2 separate regions of the Homo sapiens genome follow, and region 2 is linked to region 1. A link means that fine-mapping ties the variant in region 1 to the expression of a gene that starts in the linked region. Tissue or cell type: coronary artery. Region 1 holds a variant in brackets; the other region holds the start of a gene. All regions are shown on one strand. Distances are between the middles of the regions.

What was found. PIP is the estimated chance that this variant, and not a neighbour inherited with it, causes the effect.
Region 2: LYSMD4 starts here. The variant in region 1 is fine-mapped to the expression of LYSMD4 in coronary artery (GTEx, PIP 0.98).

What each region holds. Positions count from the first base shown.
Region 1 is chr15:100,088,151-100,096,333 of GRCh38, reverse strand. The region is part of intron 15 of ADAMTS17 (ADAM metallopeptidase with thrombospondin type 1 motif 17); the gene reads left to right. Among named protein-coding and RNA genes, the nearest start is that of ADAMTS17, 250 kb to the left of the region's middle. The variant G/A (reference allele first, on the strand shown) is at 4,162.
Region 2 is chr15:99,728,464-99,736,646 of GRCh38, reverse strand. LYSMD4 (LysM domain containing 4) reads left to right here and starts at 3,210. Exons shown (of 3, transcript NM_001284417.2): 1 at 3,210-3,302; 2 at 4,640-4,929; 3 at 6,916-8,183. The coding sequence starts at 4,648. The coding sequence ends at 7,524. RefSeq lists silencers at 2,881-3,610, 3,651-3,760.

The DNA.
Region 1 (8,183 bases):
GCTGTGGCTACAGTGTTTTGTGTCCTTTGCCTACAGCTATTGATTGCAGTCTTCCCTACATTTCATATTTAAGGGCTAGATGGTAGTGGATAGGTGACCTGGAACTTCAGTTTCATTTCTGAAAAGCAAGAAAGGACATTTTAGCAAGAATGATGCCTTCACGTTGCTAGTAGTGAATAGTTTGCCATGAACGGAAACAGCTCCCCACTTAGCCTGAGGTCCATGAATCACTGGTAGCTGCCCTGGGCCAGGAGCTCAGCACTTCCTGGCATCTCGCCTTCTGATGCACAGGCAGAGAAGGTGGGAGAGACACCTGCCAAATCATTTTACCTGTCGATGGAAGACGTTTGCTCTGTGTTTGAATTTTCTGTTAGTAAAAGTAGGATAACACATTTCTAAAACGTGCATGAAGCCGTACAGTCTGGAAGGTCTCAGGTGCCACTGCCAGCTGTGACTCCGGAGTACCTGAGCCTCCTGGTCCCCAGGGGCAGACATTCCTTAGCACTGTCCCTAGAGAGGGATGCCAGGATTCGGTTGATGGGCCGGCTTCATCTTTCTGCTTGCATGGTTTTTGCAGCTGCAGGCTGCTTTGTCTTACATGGGACACAACTTTCTGATCTCCTGTCCTGGAGGACAATGTTTAAGAAAGCGTCTGTAGTTGACACCTAGTGAGGGGAGCACGAGGCAGGCAAGCCAGCTGGAGAGGGAGCTCTGGCAGCCTTAGCGAGTGTGCACTCACCCCCCATCACCAGGAGAACTTGTGTTGGGAGGAAGAAGCTGAGAAACTTATTTTAATTTCCACAAGTTGCTCTGCATAGAAGCTTCTCAGTTCATTTTCCCCCAACAAGAGAACAGAAGCACATTTATGCCTCCCTGTCTCACAGAACAGCCCCGTAAGGTGAGGCATGCTCTCCTCTCCACTTTTCTCTGTGTGGATAGGAAACCTGGTCTGGAAGAAACGTTCCTTCTAGATGCCTGCGGGAAAGACAGCCTACTGCGCCAACATTTTGCAGGACCCTGTGAAAGCAAAACCAGAGGAAATGCAAATGCAAAATGAAACTTAAAAATGAAATTTCAGGTGGATTTTAAAGATGGGTACCTAGTCAGTGAGGCACGGAGCTTAGTGTGAGAAGCTGTGCCTGCCACGTGGCTCCTGAGGTCAACAGAGAAAGGAGAGGCAGGAGCAGGTTGGTTTGGGGGAAAGTGGCCTCCGTAGCTACACTGTCCAGTTCAGCAGCCACTGGCCCCTGGAGACGATCCAAACTGTAATTCATTAAAATGAAACCAACTTAAAAGTTCATCTTTCCATCTCACTGGGAAAATTTTGAGTACTCCGTTGCTGCACACGGCCAGCGGCTCCTGTGTTGGGCAGCACAGGCAGACAATATTCCCAGCATTCCAGAAGGTTCTATTGGACAGCACAGCTCCAGAGCGTTGCCCATTTCTGCTACTGGTTTTGACATACTTAATGCCATTTTCTCTATTGGTACCCCAGCTCCTGGGCTCCCATGAGAATTTGACCTTGCCTATTGCTGCTGAGGCAACATTTAGGAGCAAAACTCCTGCAGTTGGTAAAGGATTACTACTTACTGTTGGCTTTTCTTTTTTAATGGAAGCATTGGAACCCTTTGTTTATTAAATTGAACATTGTACTGAGCTCCCATAAAGAGAACTGACTACAAGTGCGTGATTCTGTAGAAGACAAGTCAGGTACAGCCAGGCCCACTCCCATCGCCAACCCTGGGCAACTCTGTATGTAGAACACTAAGGAAAGTTCTACCACACATCTAACTAACATAGGATCTCACTTCTGAGATAACCCAGATTAAGGTCAAAAGTGGTCTTCCTTTACCCAGACTCTGATCTGTATACCAGCCCTTGATTTGACCTAGGCAGACCTGTTCATCTGGCCACAGTAATGTCCTCCTCTCCTGCTCACCCCTTTCCCTTCTCCATCCACTCCGGCCTGGGCCACATCCCTGTCTGGAATGTGAGGTCAGACCCCTGTGGCCATGACAGTGAGTCCCCCATGGAAGGATGGACCATACTGGAAGCCTCCTTGGGTAGCTGCTCCCACCCTGGCTTGCAGCCTAGTGTGTGTCCTTCCAGCTGCCAAGGCACAGAAGCCTCAGCAAACCTTCAGGCAAAAATAAGCACACGTTCGCTTCACCTACCTGGACTGTCATTCTGAGTGATTGCCAATTGTCACACATTCATTTTAAGGTACACAGCAGTTTTTTGTTTTTCAAATCCTCACAGCTGGAGTCTGTGACCACGAGCCCACATCCATGTGGATTGTATATATTGAAAATCTGCCTGCAGTACTCATTTGCACAAGAATGAGTCACTGGCTGCCTATCTAGTATAGTTTCATTCAGCACAAACTTGTCATCATGGTCTGACATACTGGAATGCACTTTAGAGATACAAATGGTTACCCCCAAGCCCAATCACGCAATGGTTATTTATGCAGCATGACTACATTTTAACCGCTAGGTATACAGAAATAAGTTATTGTCCCCACCCCAGGTACAGTCGAGGGAGGGGACCCCCGGGCAAACAGACAGCATCAGCCTATGTGAGCATGAGGTGGAGGCAGCCCAGCAGGCGTGTTGTGAGACCCCAGGTTCTGGTGGGGCACCAGACCTAGGCCTCCAAAAGCTGAGGGTGGCCCCCAGCACTAAAGGACAAGTAGAAATCAGCTGATAGTGGGGGTAGGGGGAGGACACTTCAGGCTGAAGGGGAAACATATCCTTGCGAGACCCAGCATGGAAATCGTAGAAAGCCCCCAGGTCAAGAGGCATCTTGGTGACGCCAAGTGCAGCTGAGTGGGTGGATTCACCAGGCCTATCAGTTTAGATAGGAAGCTGACTTTCATCTCTGCTTGCCCCTAAAGAATGAGGGAAGGAGGAGTGCCTTATCACCCTTAACGGTGAATATCAAAGAGAAACTCCACACCAGAAAGATAAAGCGGAATCAAATGCTGGATTTTTGCCCAATTTTGTGAAGTCCTGACCCCTGCCTGAACTCCTGTGGGTCCTCTTACCAAAGTTCCTGAGCTGAGAATCCAGGGCAGACCCACACGTGGCGAAGTGTCCAGCCCAGCAGAGCCAAATCTCCCTCTCTGTCATGACAGGTCCCAGTGTGGCACCAGGGGAAGTGGCATCCTGAGTGTAGGGCGTTTATCGCCCTCCAGCCTGTTGCTTCCAAACTTTGAACAAATGAGGTCCTCAGCTACTTATCTATGGAAGGAATCAACTCAACTTGGCTATCATATTGCTTTTCTGATGGATGGGCTTCAAAATGCTCATGCCTTGGGCTGGCTCAAGACAGCTGAGTTATCTGAACCTAGTAATTTGAGTATGATGCTTTCATTTCATTAAATTGCCATTTTAACAATATTATCTTTATTCCGCCCTGCTCCTTGGCACTAAAAAGGTGGCTGGTCAGTCTCCAGGTGACCAGCCCATGGACAGCCAGGACACACCTGGACTGAAGTCCTCACTGAGAACCAGCCAAGGATACCTGTGGGCTTCGGATCCCTTTGCTTTGTGTTCTTGCGAGAACCTTTTCACGTAATCCTTAAAAGAAAGGGTGGGGTGAGGATCCCTTTTGAATGTGGATAGATCCATGTGTCACATATTTGTTCAGTAATTACCTCTAGAGCCCCTGCCACATGCCAGGTTCCATGCTCTGTGTAGTGTGGGGTGTGGAATCTCGTGGGGGCGGAAATTCACTGTTGGGGCTTATGGTACAAAATGAGGCTTCTTTACACTGTGATGAAGAATCGTAAAATGTGCACATAAACCAATTACAACGTATTTCTTTTTCTCAGTTAAGAATGATCTCTGTACGAAGGTATCCACATGTGTGATGGCAGAGGCTGTTCCCAAGTGTTTCTCATGTAAGATGCTGGATGTTACGTGTCGTCCCAGCAGTGACATGCTTGGTGTGGCTCTTGCCTGGCTCACGCGTCTGAGTGTTTTCTGAATAGAATCAATGGGAGTAAGTTGTGTGCGAAGCCATGGATAAACTCAGAGGCCATTAAATGCTTACATAAACTGACGTTGAAGACTGATTACCATCAGAAAAACTGTAAGATGAAACCAATTTTAAAGCTATAAAAGACAGAGTCAAATGGAAACGTACCCTAGCCTGCTG[G/A]GGGTAAGTTTTCTTTCCCCTCAAGCACACCGTGTGCTCTGGCAGAAAATACCTAGACATGCCAGAGAATTTAGCCTTCGCTGGCACCTTCTTCCATAGAAAAGTTTTCATATTTCAGGACTGGTGTCCCTACAGGCAGAGGGGCATTTGGTAACACCCTTCTGGTCTTCGTTTGTCTACACTGACCTCCCATTCTGAGGGGCGAACCAAGGCACAGTCTAGCCTCACGGGTTTCCCAAACAATGAGTTCTTTTCCATTAGACCCAGGAACCACCATTAGGGAGAAACGTAAGATAGTAATATTCTTGTGAATAACTTTTGTAAGAAGAGAAAAATAAAACAAATGCCTCTCCAAATATTTTATGATCTATTTACTAAACAAAAAAAAAGAACTCTGATTTCAGGGGAAAGAGTCCAAGTACACGTAGCCAGAGTTTTACCTCTAGTCCATCATGGTACCTTTTCAGTCCGATGGTTTTCTTCCAAAGATGGTTAATGCTCCTGAAAACATGAGGAAAAATGGGAGCCCCAAGACATCTCACAGCAAGTCTACTTGAGAAATTCAGACACAAATGACTTCACAGGGAAATTGCTCATAGCCTAGTAATAGTAACTCTGGAAGATTTGAGACAGGTTAAAGGTCAACATCACTTTGAAGTTCCTTCTTACTGCTGGTCCTTAGGGCAGAAATGGCATGTTCTCCTGGAACCACGGCAAAGGCATTGGATTTTATCCATGGCTTCCTCATGAAACCAAATCATGTTCCTGTAACTGGATTTCTCCTGCTTGGTGGCTGAAGCTGGAATGGGAAATCACTCCAAAGATAAAGCCTTACCTAAAATGTGAATCTACCTTGTAAATTCTGAGAGTAAATCCTACCTCATAATTATTCTTCATGCTTCGGCAGTGTGGTGGTATCTGGCATCCACATCGGGGGTATCTGGCCTGAGAGACGCCAGGGTGCTTTGGGACTTGGTGGTGGTACTCTTTCCCTTCTTGGTGGCTCTTCACACCTGCCTCAGGTGGACTTTGAGCTCTGGGTCAGAGCAGGGGTTGGAGGACTGTGAGCTCGAGGCAGTTTCCCCGGTTTGTGGACAGAGGGCCTGCCTTTCAGTTCAGGGACTGTCTTTTTCATTGGTTACCCTTTTTTTTTTTTTTTTTTGTTGAGACGGAGTCTCACTCTGCCTCCCAGGCTGGAATGCAGTGGCACGATCTCGGCTCATTGCAACCTCCGCCTCCCGGGTTCAAGCTATTCCCCCGCCTCAGCCTCCTGAGTAGCTGAGATTACTGGCATGCACCACCAAACCTGGCTAATTTTTTGTATTATTTAGTAGAGATGGGGTTTCACCGTGTCGTTCAGGCTAGTCTTGAACTCCTGACCTCATGATCCACCCGCCTCAGCCTCCCAAAGTGCTGGAATTACAGGCGTGAGCCACTGCGCCCAGCTGGTTTCCTTTTTATCATGAACAGAGAAACTTGTCGTAGGACGGTTAGCAGAGCGCATGCATAAGGACTGCCCTGCGTTGAGAGGTCACCTGAGGGTGGGCTCACTTGGGTACCGAGTCCGCCCTGAACTGCCTTTCATCAGCACCTCCACCAGGGGCACATGAGAAAAGACAGAAAACGGATGTCTTTTCACTGATGCATCCTGTGGCAAAGTTAAGCTTAAGAATAGATGTGGATACCATGCATCAGCTGCACAGGGACCTTGCTGTGGAATGAGGGAAAGGAATTGATCAGGGCCCCATCAGCTCTGTCGGATTCTGCAGATCGGTGATCCCAATGCCAAGGTTTGTTAGTTGCAAAAGTTTCCATACAACAGCAGCTTCCTTCAAGAACAGCTCATCCCCCACAAGCGGATCTTGTTTGCAGGTATGTTTGGTAGTTTGAGTGGAGATTCCTCTGAAAAAGATTCTAATCACTTTGACCCCGAACAACTTTTATCTCAGTTTTTGACATTTTACTGCCTTGGATTCCATATGCCTGGAATCCAATCACAGTTGAAACTCCCCAGAAGGAATGGATTTCTCTAAGAGAGATTTGCTGTAGAATATTTTGTGCCACAATCCTAAAAGCTGGTTTTCTTGTGGCCAGAATTTTTCAGTAGAGAAGGAATCCTAGAGCAAACACAATTTTTTTTCCAATTTATTTCTGAATTTTATTTTGTTTTTTTTTTTTTTAATTTTATTATTATACTTTTAAGTTCTAGGGTACATGTGCACAACAGGCAGGTTTGTTACATATGTATACAAGTGCCATCTTGGTGTGCTGCACCCATTAACTCGTCATTTAACATTAGGTATATCTCCTAATGCTATCCCTCCCCCCTCCCCCAACCCCACAACAGTCCCCAGTGTGTGATGTTCCCCTTCCTGTGTCCATGTGTTCTCATTGTTCAATTCCCACCTTTGAGTGAGAACATGCGGTGTTTGGTTTTTTGTCCTTGTGATAGTTTGTTGAGAATGATGGTTTCCAGCTTCATCCATGTCCCTACAAAGGACATGAACTCATCATTTTTTATGGCTGCATAGTATTCCATGGTGTATATGTGCCACATTTTCTTAATCCAGTCAATCACTGTTGGACATTTGGGTTGGTTCCAAGTCTTTGCTATTGTGAATAGTGCCACAATAAACATATGTGTGCATGTGTCTTTATAGCAGCATGATTTATAATCCTTTGGGTATATACCCAGTAATGGGATTGCTGGGTCAAATGTTATTTCTAGTTCTAGATCCCTGAGGAATCGCCACACTGTCTTCCACAATGGTTGAACTAGTTTACAATCCCACCAACAGTGTAAAAGTGTTCTATTTCTCCACATCCTCTCCAGCACCTGTTGTTTCCTGACTTAATGATTGCCATTCTAACTGGTGTGAGATGGTATCTCATTATGGTTTTGATTTGCATTTCTCTGATGGCCAGTGATGATGAGCATTTTTTCATGTGTTTTTTGGCTGCATAAATGTCTTCTTTTGAGAAGTGTCTGTTCATATCCTTTGCCCACTTTTTGATGGGGTTGTTTTTTTCTTGTAGATTTGTTTGAGTTCATTGTAGATTCTGGATATTAGCCTTTTGTCAGATGAGTAGATTGCAAAAATTTTCTCTCATTCTGTAGGTTGCCTGTTCACTCTGATGGTAGTTTCTTTTGCTGTGCAGAAGCTCTTCAGTTGAATTAGATCCCATTTGTCAATTTTGGCTTTTGTTGCCATTGCTTTTGGTGTTTTAGACATGAAGTCCTTGCCCATGCCTATGTCCTGAATGGTAATGACTAGGTTTTCTTCTAGGGTTTTTCTGGTTTAGGTCTCACATGTAAGTTTTTAATCCATCTTGAATTAATTTTTGTATAAGGTGTAAGGAAGGGATCCAGTTTCAGCTTTCTACATATGGCTAGCCAGTTTTTCCAGCACCATTAATTAAATAGGGAATCCTTTCCCCATTTCTTGTTTTTGTCAGGTTTGTCAAAGATCAGATAGTTGTAGATGTGTGGTATTATTTCTGAGGGCTCTGTTCTGTTCCATTGGTCTATATCTCTGTTTTGGTACCAGTACCATGCTGTTTTGGTTACTGTAGCCTTGTAGTATAGTTTGAAGTCAGGTAGTGTGATGCCTCCAGCTTTGTTCTTTTGGCTTAGGATTGACTTGGCGATGCGGGCTATTTTTTTGGTTCCATATGAACTTTAAAGTAGTTTTTTCCAATTCTGTGAAGAAAGTCATTGGTAGCTTGATGGAGATGTCATTGAATCTATAAATTACCTTGGGCAGTATGGCCATTTTCACAATATTGATTCTTCCTACCCATGAGCATGGAATGTTCTTCCATTTGTTTGTATCCTCTTTTATTTCATTGAGCAGTGGTTTGTAGTTCTCCTTAAAAGGTCCTTCACATCCCTTGTAAATTGGATTCCTAGGTATTTTATTCTCTTTGAAGCAATTGTGAATGGGAGTTCACTCATGATTTGGCTCTCTGTTTGTCTGTTATTGGTGTATAAGAATGCTTGTGATTTTTGTACATTGATTTTG
Region 2 (8,183 bases), 360 kb after region 1:
CTCATAAATAATTAGTGAAACTGCTTGACCCCAGTAATCAATTGGAACAAAATGCTTGCTAACCAAACTTTGATTAGGCTTCTCTCTTCCCCTAGCCCACTGAATAAACCTTGACTCCACCACAACCTGAGCCAGCATAAGCTCTTCCTGAGACTTGGCTGACCCCAGGGTAGAACATTCTCTGATCTACTACCAGATCCCACCACCCTTTCATCCCGCTTCCCCATACCGTGCTCTTTCTAGCTTTGTTACTTCGCTGTGAAAGGAGAACTTTCTGTCTAACTCTTGAGATGTTACAGAGCTTATGGTCAGAAGTTCTCCCCATTGCAATAGTCCCTCCCACCACCTTGCAATAATCTTTTGGAATAAACTTTATCCTAAGTCTGGATTTATTTTGTACTGGACACACTGAATGAATGAAACAACCATAACTGATCAGAAAGCAGCAATACTAATCCAGCTTTACAAATTCTGTTGTGACTTTTCTTGCCATTAGTCACACTTTGAAATTCTGACTCCTGGATTTGCCAAACCCACCGGGCCATGGCCAGGTGCCTTGGGCCCGAAGTACAGCTGGTGGCTGAGAGCCAGGCCTCTGGAATAGACACACTAGGATTTGGATTTTGGTGCTCTCAACTCAGGATTTTAATCCTTTGTCGGGATGCATTTATTTTCCCCAGATAATATGCTTTTTAATTTTAGTTTGCCTTCCCGTATCCTGGGTCAGGTCATCAGAACAGCTCTCCTAATGAGCCCACATTGAATGAGCACCTCTAGACGCCGCCACTCAGCTGGGCCTTGGAAGTTGTATGGGGACAGTAGTATTCTGGCAATAAATGACAAGTAAATGAACTAGGAAGTACTATGAAGAAACCGTGTTCTCACAGAGCACTAAGGGAGCACCTACATATACCCGCTGGACAGGGGAGAACTCACTGAGAAGATGACTTACTTTGAGGCCTGAGGCTCAGACAGTCCAGTAATGCAAGCAGCTTGAGAGAAGGAGCCTTGAAGCCTGTATTAGGTTCTCCAGAGAGACAGAACCAATAGGAGATACCTATCTATCTACAGATACAGAGTCAGGTCCTCCAGAGAGACAGAACCGATAGGAGATATCTACCTATCTACAGATACAGAGTCAAGTCCTCCAGAGAGACAGAACTGATAGGAGCTATCTAATCTATCTATCTATCTATCTATCTATCTATCTATCTATCTATCTACCTACCTACCTACCAATAGGAGATATCTGTCTATCTATCTATATATCTATTTCTACCTATAGAGAGAGACACAAAGTGAGTGAGTGAGAGAGAGGAGATTAGACTTGGCTCACACAATTAAGGAGACTGAAAGTCCCGGGACAGGTGGGTCTGCAAGCTGGAGACCCTGGGATGCAGATAATATGGTTCAGTGCAGGTCCAAAAACATCAGAACCAGGGAAGCTGATGATGTCACTCTCATTCCAAGGCCAGAGTCTTGAGAACCCTGGGGGTTAGGGGAGGGTAAGTCCTGGAGTCCAGACCATTTTGGGCTTTGTCCACGAAGATTAACAATTTGACTTTTAGTTTAAGTGGGTGTATTAGTCCGTTTTCATCCTGCTGATAAACACATACCCGAGACTGGGCAAAAGAAAGAGGTTTAATGGACTCACAGTTCCACCTGGCTGGGGAGGCCTCACAATAATGGCTGAAGGTGAAAGGTGCATCTCACATGGCAGCAGATAGAAGAAAAGAACTTGTGCAGGGCAACTTCCCTTTATAAAACCATCAAATCTAGTGAGACTCATTCGCTATCTGGAGAACAGCACAGAAAACACCTGCTCCCATGATTCAATCACCTCCCACCAGGTCCCTCCCACAACAGGTGGAAACTGTGGGAGCTACAATTCAAGATGAGTTTTGGGTGTGGACACAGTCAAATCCTATTAGTGGGAAAAGGTTTGTGAGATCTTGTTTTAATGTTTGCTTTGTTGTTTAATCTGATTGCAAGTGAGGGTTAAAAACATTTTCAACCTGTTGACCATTTGCATTGTTTGCTGAATTATCTGCTCCTGTCTCTCTGAGGTCTCCCTCAGACCTGCTGAGGTCTTAGCATCTTTCCTATTCATATGAAGTCTCTCTCAGCGAAGGATTTTAATCCTTTGTTGTGTTCAGTTTATTTTCCCTAGGTTATCTGCTTTTTAATTTTGGTTTTCCTTTTTAAGTAGAAGCTCTGAACTTTGTGCCTTAGTGTGTGAGGTTTTTGTTTTTGTTTTTTTTTGAGATGGAGTCTCCCTCTGTTGCCCAGGCTGGAGTGCAGTGGCACGATCTCGGCTCACTGCAACCTCCGCCTCCGGGTTCAAGCAATCCTCTGTCTCAGCCTCCTGAGTAGCTGGGATTACAGGCGCCCGCCACCATGCCCGGCTAACTTTTTTATTTTTTTTTATTTTTATTTTTTTAGTAGAGACGGGGTTTCACCATCTTGGCCAGGCTGGTCTCGAACTCCTGACCTCGTGATCCACCAGCCTCGGCCTCCCAAAGTGCTGGGATTACGGGCGTGAGCCACCGCGCCCGGCCAGTGTGTGAGAATTCTTCCACCACTTTTCATCTTAAGAAATCCTCGGCCACCTGACATTTGATAAACACGACTTAAGTTTTCTTGGTCCCTGTTGTCCGCATCCATGTTTTACACTCGTGGATTTCTGTTTTCTTCTCGGGGTGGGGCAATGCCTCCCCTGGTGCGGCCCTCAAAGGCCCAGGAGCGCAGATCCCGCCGCAGAAAGACCCCTCGCCCATCTGCGCCCAGCCCTTCCCCGCAGGAGGGCTCAGGGGACCCCACGCTACTGGAATCCACCCCGAGTCACAGCTACAGATCATTACCCACAAGTGGGGTCAAAGGCCTCTTTACGGGCGAGAAAGCTGCGGCTCAGCAGAAAGCCAAGCACTTTGGGAGGGAGGAGCTGAGGTGCCTTATTACTCCGAACAGACGCGAAAACAAGCCAGGGCCCGCGCGGGTAGACCTGGTAGGCGGGTGGGCGGGGCGAGGGCCACTTCCGGGGTGTGGAACCCTGTCGAGCCCCGCCCCGAGCCCCGCCCCGAGCCCCGCCCCGGGCCCTGTGGTCCCGGGATGAGCTCTCCGCGCAGCCAGGCTCGCTCCAGTGCCCGCCCAGCGCTGACTTCATTGGCTGCCTCCCCAGTCCCGCCCCCAGGGGGGCCCTGCTGATGTTCGTAGCCAATCCGCAGGCGCGGTGGCAGCTGCGGGTCGCGGGTCGCGGGTCGCGAGTCGCCGGTCGCCGGTCGCGGCGGAGCCTGGGCGCTGAGGTACCGGGGCCTGGACGAGGGGGCCGCGGTCTGGCTAGGGAGCCGCGCGGGCTCATGGCGGTACGGCGACCTGGCCTCGCTCGAGGGTTCGCGGGCGGGCCGCCCCTCCCCGGGCTCCTAGGGGGACGCTCCAGCTGGAGGGGCGGTGACCGCGACTGTCGTGGGCTGGCCCCAGGTGGCTAGGGTTGGGGGTCAGAGGTCAGAGGTTCTGCCCTCTGGAATGTTAGGGCCCCGCCCGTGGAGCCGTGGAGCCCTGGGGCCGGGCCGCTCCCCATTTTCCTGTCAGCTCTTGTTGAGGTGCCCCATCTTTTCGCAGAAGGGACTTGGAGGGAAGCGGGCCTGGAGCTGCTGCCGCCGCCCCTGAGCTCGGACGCGAAGGCTGGCCCCGTCCCCGGGCTGCCGCCGTGGTCCTGCAGGTGACCCTCAACCCCCCGAGGACCGCCGGCCGCCTCCCGCCTCCGGGCAGGCTCAGGAGCGCGCGGAGCGGGGTGTGGGCCTGTGACCCTCGAAGGCGTGGGCGGGGAGTAGGGGGTCGAGCTGGGGCCGCAGGCTGTCCCCGTACGGGCTGCTCCCCTGTGGCTCCGAAGCCACCTTTTTCTGAAGTTGTCAGCCCGCGTGTTTGAGATTTCGTTTCTGGAATCTCACGCGAACAATCTGGAGAGAGGAACAGGGGTCTTGCGGCTTTGGCTGTTGACTCAAGGGGAAAATAAAAACCAGACAATGGGGATGTAATGAATGCAAAGTGACCCGTGAGCAAACTGGACGCTTTTCTCCGGCTGACAGGCATGAGTTCTCCCCGTAGCTTGCCCCACATACTGTGAGTTAAACTGTGTCAAAGTAAGAGCAGTTTAGCCCCACAGTTCTGAGCAAGAGTCCTTAGCGCTGACCTTCTTAGTGAAGATACTTTGCAATGTGTAAAATATTGAATACAAAATTATTGTGCAAAGCTTCTGAGTTGAAGATTCTGAGTGCGCGGAGGCTGGCGGCAGCCCTTACTTGCCATTGCAAGGATCTCAACTTACTACTCTGAGAGCAAAAGTAGTTGTTTCTTTACAGATGTGGGTTTAGGGGAGACAGCTATGGATGAGGAACAGGGGCGGGGTTCGTTTTCTGCACAAAACGTATGCGATTAGAAAAAACAAAGGGTTTTTATTCTGCCTATCTTCTTCCATCTCAGCCAGCATAAGCACATTCTTTTTTTTCTGTTGATGATGTATGCTGAGTATTTGCAGCGATTAGGAAAAGGAATACTCTCTAACAAGACACTTCTCTTTAAACGAGGCGGTGGAGGGATGATTATGTCTTCTGTGGAATTAACCCTCCGGCTTGATTTTCAGTGAAGAAAATGAGGCACGAGGAATTGTTAACCAAGACCTTCCAAGGCCCAGCTGTTGTGTGTGGGACTCCGACCAGCCACGTATACATGTTTAAGAATGGCAGTGGGGACTCGGGGGACTCTTCTGAAGAAGAGTCTCACCGTGTGGTTTTGCGGCCCCGGGGCAAGGAGCGCCACAAGAGCGGTGTCCACCAGCCTCCCCAGGCGGGAGCAGGTGACGTGGTGCTGCTGCAGCGGGAGCTGGCCCAGGAGGACAGCCTCAACAAGCTGGCGCTGCAGTATGGCTGCAAAGTAAGACACCCCTCAGGGGCCCTGCCCCGCTCCGTTTCAAGGAACACGGGGAACTCACTGCAGGGTGGGTGCCCTTGCCGCCCTTCTTAACCCTGCCAGGCCGTCAGGAGAGGCCTGCTGTAGCAGCCAAGGACTCCCCTATTTAGCCAGAATTGGAATGCAGGTGGGAGTACCTTTAGTTCCCAACCCTGGCCCCCAAAGAGGGAGGGTTAGCGCATTTCTTTCTCTGCAGGGAACTTCTCCTTTTCCTGTTTTCTCCACACTGAAATTCTGAAACCTTTTTTCTTCTTTCGAGCACATTTTATTTTAGACCTAATGGGGCTGGAGATACCAGGCAGAATTTAATTCCGGATTTCTATGGTATGCTTGCTTTTCTCGCTGCTCTTATTTTTCTGAACCTTTCTTGGTGGTAGCTTACTTGACTTTTGGTAAAGTTTTACCTTCTCTCGTTTAGAACTGCATGGTCTTTTGTATGCTGTGTATCTATATAACCCTGTTTTTCTCTAATTATGTTTTCAGCATTCAGAGTGATTAACAATGGCAAAGTAAGTAGGAAAGTATTTCTAGAATTGCTGCATTTTCTCCTAGATTGCAACTGTTTCACTTTGCTAACACTGTGCTACAGATTTGTATGGCCTTCTCTAGGGGTATATAAGCTACTTAATTTAAGAAATCTCTTTCTCCTACAAGTGTCTTATCTAACAAGGTCCAAATGTCTGAAACATGTTGTGTGGGGTGTTGCGGTCTTTCAGGGAAATAAACAGGTTGGTCTCCGGGGACACATAGTGGTCTTTAAATTGTACTGACAATTATATTTGGCTCCGATAAGCAGCTTCTGCAGGCATACTGTGTGGCTTACAGAACATGGGCTGAAAAATGAAGCCTGTCCTACAAAGACCGGAATAGATGGAGTAGGCTTCTTGGTATGGTGATGTCTAAATCCGTAAAGAATATATAAAGCCTTTGATAAGTGATCAGTTTTCCTATTTGAAGTAAATAAATTTGCTCTTAATTTATTGAAGGCAGAGACAGAAAGATCTCAAGGGTCTCATGCATTAGATTCAGGACATAGTGAATTAAAAATGTCCCCTACCCCAAATCAGTTACAATAACAGCAGTTGCTGAATAATAATGGAAATGATTGATTTGATTGAGATCTGTTGGCTGTATTCACTTTCTAGTTTAAGTGGACTTAAGTGTTAAAAGTTTGGAGTTCATCTCTGATGCTTTTGGAAAGTTTTCAAACATTAGTTTGAGGGAGGGGTTACCCTTTGACTTACATTCTCCCTGCTTCTTAAATCTTCGTGTTTGATTATGAGAGGAGTTTGTCATGAACTTTGTTACTTGATAAAACTCACAGCATTATTCCTTTTTCCTGACAGTTAAGTACAGTAACTGTAAGTCACTTTTATTTAATAAGTTTACATGCCCCACAGTGTTTCTGGGAAAGAAAATGCCGAGGGCATATCTGTCAACTTTATTACAGGTAAACTGGATTTTGAGTGTGTCTGCAGAGCTGGCTGAGGCTGTGTGTTTGGTGAATGCTAACATCTGGCAGCCACTGAGTTCTGGCATGAGGGGGAAGGCAGGCAGATGGGGGCACTATTGCCTCAAAAGTGAAAGGTGGAAAAGGCTGCAACATTCCTTTCAGTGCCATGGTGGTTTCGCCCAAAGCGATTTGTTGCAGTCACACTTTAAACAGTTTAAGAAAGATCTGTTTTTCAAAACTGATCTTAAATTGTTCAAACCTGTAAATCTTTAGGAATATCTGATTACTAAACTATATATTGAGGTTGAGTGAAAGCCAAAAAAACAAAATTTCAGCCTAAACTAACTTTGTGTACAGCTGCAGTTTTCCAGTCTTCATCAGATTCGTCAGTGAAGTGGGCTTGAATCATCACCCAGAAAGATTAAGAGCCACTTTTTGGAAAGTTATTTTTAAGGAGCTCCGCATATTTTATGATGTTTATCTTCGTGCCTTCCTAGGTTGCAGATATCAAGAAAGTCAACAACTTCATCAGAGAACAAGACTTATATGCTTTGAAATCTGTTAAGATTCCAGTGAGAAACCATGGGATCCTGATGGAGACCCACAAAGAACTGAAACCCCTTCTGAGCCCGTCTTCCGAGACCACAGTGACCGTGGAACTGCCAGAGGCAGACAGAGCAGGCGCGGGCACCGGTGCCCAGGCCGGCCAACTGATGGGCTTCTTTAAGGGGATTGACCAGGATATTGAGCGTGCAGTGCAGTCAGAAATCTTTCTACATGAAAGTTACTGCATGGACACCTCCCATCAGCCACTGCTCCCGGCACCTCCGAAGACGCCTATGGATGGTGCAGATTGTGGCATTCAGTGGTGGAATGCTGTTTTCATCATGCTGCTGATTGGTATTGTCTTGCCTGTCTTTTATTTGGTCTACTTTAAAATACAAGCTAGTGGTGAGACCCCTAATAGCTTGAACACAACTGTCATCCCCAATGGCTCGATGGCAATGGGTACAGTTCCAGGGCAAGCCCCCAGACTAGCAGTTGCAGTGCCAGCCGTCACTTCTGCAGACAGCCAGTTCAGTCAGACCACCCAAGCGGGGAGCTAAGCTTTGTTTTTAAAGACTAGGCCCAGCTTTAGCAATTGGCTGTTGATGTGCCTCAGCTGTCACTGGCGATGTCCTAGGGGTGCTGCATTTTGCTTCCGGGGAAGGATGGACACTTTTCAGAAGTCACTGCAGTATTCCCAATTGCACTGGCCCTGGGCATGGCCTTACCCAGTCTAAGCTGGCAGGATCTAAAACAGCAGCGACCTCGGCCCCTATCCAGAGAGGTGCAGCAAGAGAGCCATTTCCCTGTGACATTTAGTGGACTGGCCAGTTCATAGCAGCACTGTGAGGACCCCCAAGTTGGACGTGCTCGGAGGGAAAGATTTATGGCCTCTGTCGAGGGACCTGCAGCGTGAGAGCCAGTGGCATCTGCGCGGCTTGCCTGGCTCTTGCTGTATCCTCACTTCCTGTGGAGCGGGGATTGGCTCTGAGAAGGAGTGTTCTCTGTCTGCCTGGCAAAGGTGCTGTGGAATAGGCTTGGCATGCCACCCTGTTTTAGAGAGTGACAGTTACAGTTGTAACAAGCCTACTTCATATTGGCCCCCTCAGTTAGCCTTTTTGAGGCAATGCCATTTCTAGAGTTGAAAAAGCCCTGGACCCAAACTGCGGCACTGTTGAATAAAGGGCAGTCCTACTCCTGTCCTTTTAGAGTGGCTTAG